Linked DNA regions of Homo sapiens. The protein of the gene in region 2 purifies or fractionates together with the protein of the main gene of each other region. This does not show direct contact. Each region holds a gene or a part of one and is shown on either strand. Other genes may lie near its edges.

Region 1 (3,089 bases), on a different chromosome or scaffold from region 2:
CCTTACTTAACTATTCTGGACATCTGTCTGTCCCTGGAACAGCCTGATGTGGGCAGATGGTCGTGGAGGCTGAAAACCCGGGTGTTGGCCTTGGCGTCAAAGTTTGCTGGTTGAGTGACCTACGCAAGTTAAGCCCTCTGATCTTTATGTGACTTACATGTTAAATGAGAACCAGTCCTGCTCTGCCTGGATCACAGTAGGGATCAAAGGAGACCAGTGTCTCGTCAACTGAAAATTACTACACAAGCCATAGGCCTCTGTTTCTTTTTATTTTATTTTATTTTTTTTTTGAGATGGAGCCTTGCTCTGTCGCCCAGGCTGGAGTGCAGTGGCACGAACTCCGCTCACTGCAAGCTCCGCCTCCCGGGTTCACGCCATTCTCCTGCCTCAGCCTCCCGAGTACTGGGACTACAGGCACTTGCCACCACGCCCAGCTAATTTTTTCTATATTTTAGTAGAGATGGGGTTTCACCATGTTAGCCAGGATGGTCTCGATCTCCTGACCTCGTGATCCGCCCGCCTTGGCCTCCCAAAGTGCTGGGATTACAGGTGTGAGCCACCGTGCCCGGCCGCCATAGGCCTCCATTTCTGTCTCTGACAGTCTACCTTTCTATTCCTCTTGGTCACATGGCATCTGTAGATATTCAGAGAGTGAGGTGGAAAGGTGAGGTGTCCCTGCCTTTATGAGAATCAAAGCTGCTTCTGCTATACCTGTGACACACAGAGGCAACACCATGAGGGCAAGAGGACTGAGGAATCAGCATTCCTGCTCAGACATTCAGAGACTGTGAAGGGCCAGGAGGGAGCCACCTGACACTGAGTCTTAGGGAGCCCCTTTCCTGTAGTTTCAGGTAGACCACGGGAACCACAGGCTGGAGGCTGGGCCGGAGAGCCAGCACCAAACCAGGGAACAGCTGGGTGCCCTCCCTCAGCAGTGGCTGGGCCAGCTGGAGCACATGCCAGCAGAAGCGGCCAGAATCCTTGACATCTCCAGGGCAGTAACACAGCTCAGAAGCCTGGTCATTGATCTGGAAAGGACGGCCAAGGAATTAGACACCAACACACTGAAGGTGCATACCCTGAGGCCTTCCCCAAGGGCTGGGATTCTCCCCGATAGGAGGCAGCCCATCTGCATCACCCTTCTGGGAGGTGTAAGAGGGAGGGGCCTGTGTGATATGTGGTGACTTGTGGTAGATGTGGCTTGTTCCAGGCTACAGAGTGCTGCTGCAGCAGAATGGGCACAGAAGAGGGGTGTTGCTATGTTCCCCCAGTTCTCAAGGTGGCACCCCAGAGTGGCCTCCAAGAGTGAATTGGGAAAGGAATTTGGAGGTGATAGGAACCTGAGAACCAATTATGATTCTCACTTTTTCTCTCTCCTAGAATGCTGGTGACTTACTGAACAGGTACGAGCTGTCCCTTCTTCTTTCCCACATGTGCATATAAACCCACACAACACAGACATGCACAGAGGTCAAGGAGACCCACTGCTCCGTTAGCTTTTGTATCTTGATGCTACATGGCCAATGGAAGAGCCAATGGAATATATGAATACATATTAATCTATGAAAGATTTCTTTGTTTCTAGGAGTGCTCCACAGAAATTAGAGGTTATTTATCCCCAGTTGGAGAAAGGAGTCAGTGAATTGCTTCTTCAGCCCCCTCAGAAGCTCTGACCTGTTCATCCCTGGGACACCTCACTTCAGGCTCACCTCAGCCTCCTCTCTCTCCTTCCTCCAACCTGTCCAGGCCCCCACTGGGTCTACCCAGTGCATCTTCGGGCCTGCCAGCTCCTGAACATGTCACCATTTCTTCATGTCCACAGTCATCACCTGATGCCTGACCCTCTGACTCTTGGACGATAGCCAGCCTCCTTCCAGGACAGGCTCATGCTTGGGGCTGCCACTGTGGAGGTCGGGGCCCATGGTCTCCAGGAGCATTTGTGAAATCTCCATTTTGCCTGTAAACTGATGGTAGTGCCCATCTCTCACAATCTCATTCAAATAGGATCCTCCAGGCCTCTGAATGGCCCGAGCTCATCAGCAGTGACACCACCTCACATGTGGAGCCCAGCTGAGTTCCTGCAGTACTTGTTGTCTGTACCACTCACCTGGCACTTATTTATTATTGTTGTGGAAGACAGACTCAAAGACAGCCTCCCTTCATGATCCTCACCTCTTGGAATTCATGCCCTTGTTTGGTCCCCTCCCCTTGAGTGTAAGTGGGATCTGTGACTTGCTTCTAATGAATGGAATAAGGCAAAGGTGATAGGGTGTCACTCTGGCAACTGTGTTGCATTGTATAGAACTCCTCCTTGCTGGCCCACCCTTTTAGAGCCCCTCCTAGGAGCCAAGAGCAGCTTCCAGCCAACAACAAGCAGAGGCCCTCAGTCTTGTGGCTGCAAGAACCTGAATTCTGCCAACAACCCGAGTGAGCTTGGAAGCAGATTCTTCCCCAACTGAGCCGGATAAGAACCTAGTCCAGCCAACACCTTGATTATAGTCTTGTGAGTACCTAAGCTGAGGACCCAGTGAAGCTGTGCCAAAATTTCCCACCCACAGAAACAGTGTGACAATAAATGTGTGTGTGTTTTTTTGTTTTCTGTTTTCGTTTTTGAGATGGAGTCTCACTCTGTTGCCCAGGCTGGAATGCGGTGGTGTGATGTCGGCTCACTGTAACCTCTGTCTCCTAGGTTCAAGCAATTCTCCTGCCTCAGCCTCCCTAATAGCTAGGGATTATAGGCGCCCGCCACCACACCCGGCTAATTTTTTGTGTTTTTAGTAGAGACAGGGTTTAACCATGTTGGCCAGGCTGGCCTTGAACTTCTGACCTCAGGTGATCAGCCCACCTTGGCCTCCCAAAATGCTGGGATTACAGGTGTGAGCCACCGCGCCTGGCCATGTGTTGTTATAAGGCAGTAAATTTGTGGTAATTTTTGTGGAGTAATGGATAATGAATACAATTGTATATTAGTCATTTTTGTATAAGCCTCACTTCTTTGGGTGAGCAGGGATCATATTCTGTCTGTGTCCTCATGTCTAGAACAGTGTCTGGCTCATAGCTGGTGTCCAGTAAAATTTTAAATGTATGTA
Region 2 (3,500 bases):
AGTGAAGATGCTGTGAAGATTGTTGAAATGACAGCAAAGGATTTACATAAACTTATTGATAAAGCAGTGTCAGGGTTTGAGAGGACTGACTCCAATTTTGAAAAAAGTTCTGCTGTGGGTAAAATACTGTCAAACAGCATTGCATTCTATAGAGAAATCTTTCATGAAAGGAAGAGTCAATCAATGTGACAAACTTCATTATTGTCTTATTTTAAGAAACTGACCCAGCTACTTCAATCTTCAGTAACCACCACCTTAATCAGTCAGTAGCCACCAACATTGAGGTAAAACCCTCCACCAGCAAAAAGATTATGACTTGCTGAAGGCTCAGCTGATCATTAGCATATGTGAGCAATAAAGTATTTTCAATTAAGGTATGTACATTGATTTTTTTACATAATGCTATTGCACCCTTAACAGACTACAGTATAGTGTAAACATAACTTTTATATACACTGGAAAACCAACAAATTTGTGTGACTCACTTGATTGCAATATTCTCTTTATTGCAGTGGCCTGGAATGGAACCAGCCGTATCTCCCATGGATGCCTGAATTTATTTAATAGTAAGCATTCAAAAACACCCATGATTTTCCTCCTCTCCTGACTATTTGCCATTTAGAATAAGAAATACAGGTAGCATATGATGAAAATTAATATATAGCTAGAAAATATAATTTTAAAGATAACATTTACAATGGCAATTACAAAAATATAAACCACCTAAAACTCAATCTAAAAAGAGTGCATGCCCTTTGAAGAAAATTATAAACTGTATTGAAAGACATTAAATAAGAACTAAATAAATGGAAAGAGTTACTACATTTACAGATAGAAAGACTCAGGCTCAATGTCCTAATGATGGCATTATCTTTTAATCAGTCTATAAGTTTGATAAAACTCAAATCAAATCTCAACAGTATTCTTGTGAAACCTTGAAAGATGATTATAAAATGTATACGGAAGAAAACAGCCCAAGAAAAGCCAAGACACTCTTGAGACACTTTTGCAGAAGGACACTTTTAGGGATGTGTCCTGGCCAATACCAAGATTCATTAAAAAGCTATAATAAAGTTTGGTTAGGGCAAAAGAGTGGCTAAAACATATGCTTAGAAATTGACTCTAAGTTCCAGGAAAATCATTTTTCCATATGAAAGAAAATTAGAATAAATGCCTACCTCACACAACACACACACACACACACACACACACACACACACATATATGCACACACTCCACATGGATTAGAGAACCTAAATTTGAAAGGCAAACAAAACAATAAAGCTTTTAGAAGACAACAAAGGAGAATATCTTCATGACATCAGAGTGGGAAAAAAAAGGCTTTCTGAAACAAGACATAAAAAGTGCTAACCATAAAAGATTGATAAATTCAACTACGTTAAAATTAAGAAGTTAGATAGCAGAAGGTTGGCAAAAATCCAACTTCTATGTGGTCTATAAATCTATTCAGCTTCCCAAAGGCATAAATAACCTTTTTGCATTTATTGGAACTATATTCTGACAACACATGCCATAGCTCAGATTCAGCATATGGTTGGCCCATCTTTGACTTTGTCCACAATTAGATTACTAGCACTACTGGTTTAACCTGAGTATATTTGAATGGATGTGGCTTATACCTAGAACTTTCGTGAGTAGACATATAATACTGCTCAGAATAACATGGCCTGCAATTCAAGACAAGCACCACCACATGCCATCATTATAGGTACTGCTACACCATCACCAGGGACTAGGATTGTACAGCATCTCTTCCTTACCCTCTGTGCAGCGTTTTTCTATGTTTATGATCATTCACACCACAAAGTTCATTCTTGTTCTGCTAACTGCTGGGATTTAACTGCTACTACAAAAACTACCAGGAGAAATATATATCAGTGAAAGCAAGGATAGAAAACCCTAGGGTAGATCAACTTCTAACCCCATGAGAGAAGGTAATCTACTGTCTCCCACACAGCCATGATTTTGTACCAAAAGCTTCCTCCGGTGAGCCTGTGAGTCTTCCATTTCCTTTCTCCTCTCATTCATTCTACCATGCATTCTTCACCAATATTCTGCCATTCACTCTACATGTTGACATATATACCATAATATATGAATATAGTCTGAGACAATAAGAGAAGAAAATGTCACCCACATATGACTTATGTTTAAGGTGATGTAAATTTTTTCAAGATGTCCCTTGCATATATCAAAAGAGATGCTTCTGTTGGCATGATAGTATCTAATAACAACACTCTGTTACTGATGGGAAGTTATTTCTTGGGGACCCCAAGGAATGGAACCTCATAAACTTTCAATGCATTTCATGTCAGGGTACTGAGTAATTACATAGCATTACAATTTTAAAATTTCCTCTTTGGATGAAAGCAGTTTTATTTATAATTTTTCCTATAATGGAAGTAGATAGCTCTAGTGAATCGACTGTTTTAATAGGACAGATTTGGATAAGTAGTTATTGTTAATGATTTTAAGAGATGTCAATAAAACATAGAAATGACTTTCAACAGATAATTATTATAATTCACTCCCAAATCTAGATTACAAAATAAAGAATCACAATAAAAAATGATTTTCAAGTTCACTGATCACAAAGAATTTCAATATTGTCTATGGAAAACAATTTACCCTAATCTTTTTACCCAAATTAACTTAATGAACCACAGCAGACTGAACACATTTAATTCAATTCAATTAAGCAGAAACTTATTGAGCATCTACTACATTCCAGACACCGGAGTTAAAAGGGACAGCTATATTTCCTTTCCCTAAGTAGTTCATAAATGTCCTTTATTCCAGTATAATTATTAGGCAAAATACTATTTCTTTCTTATTACCTATGTAGTGACTAGCTAGACAGTTTATAAATGTCCTTTATTTCAGGAAAATTATTGGACAAAATACCATTTCTTTTTATTATATATACAGTAATGAGCTAGAAAGTGAAGAGAATTCAGTGGAATTGTTTAGGTTTGTTCTGGAAAAATATATTCAAAAGAATTATCAAATTTAGGATAGTGACTATGTCTGCCAAGAGAAGGGGACGTATGATCAGAGAAAGGTTACCAGGAGGTTTCAACTGTATTTAACTGGCTTTATTTCATTAGCTGAGTGGTAGGTACAAAACTTTTTATTATATTGTTATTTATACTTTTTGTGTGTCTTAACCCATTTATGCCAGAGGTTGCAAATTGTTTTTTGTGAAAAATGAGACTTTGGTGATGACCTTGAGCAGTAGGATATAAATAACGCCCACAAGCTTAGCATTCCAATAAAGGAACACTAGGCATAAATGGGTTAAATATTCTGTCCTACATTTCAAATCACACACATATTATTTTCATGATAGAATGAAAACTACTCTTAAAAGGCTTAAGTGATTCTCTACATTTTTCCCAATCTATTTCATAAGACACTGAGAGATGCTACTTGAAATCAAAGGTTCTATGGCAAATGAATTTTTAAAATTCTTCATGAGT

Evidence for each region. Proteins that work in one complex are often made in the same cells at the same time.
Region 1: the proteins of DAB1 (region 2) and TRIM40 purify together in Homo sapiens (affinity purification with western blotting; one study listed by BioGRID). This does not show direct contact.

Annotation. Positions count from the first base shown.
Region 1 is NC_000006.12:30,146,140-30,149,228, forward strand, and holds the end of TRIM40 (E3 ubiquitin ligase TRIM40), read left to right. Parts: intron 1-845; coding exon 846-1,070; intron 1,071-1,380; coding exon 1,381-1,403; intron 1,404-1,585; coding exon 1,586-1,673; 3' UTR 1,674-2,589; downstream 2,590-3,089. UniProt on the Homo sapiens protein: E3 ubiquitin-protein ligase that plays a role in the limitation of the innate immune response. Mediates inhibition of the RLR signaling pathway by ubiquitinating RIGI and IFIH1 receptors, leading to their proteasomal degradation.
Region 2 is NC_000001.11:57,414,061-57,417,560, forward strand, and holds part of DAB1 (disabled homolog 1), read right to left. Parts: intron 1-3,500. UniProt on the Homo sapiens protein: Signaling adapter of the reelin-mediated signaling pathway, which regulates the migration and differentiation of postmitotic neurons during brain development.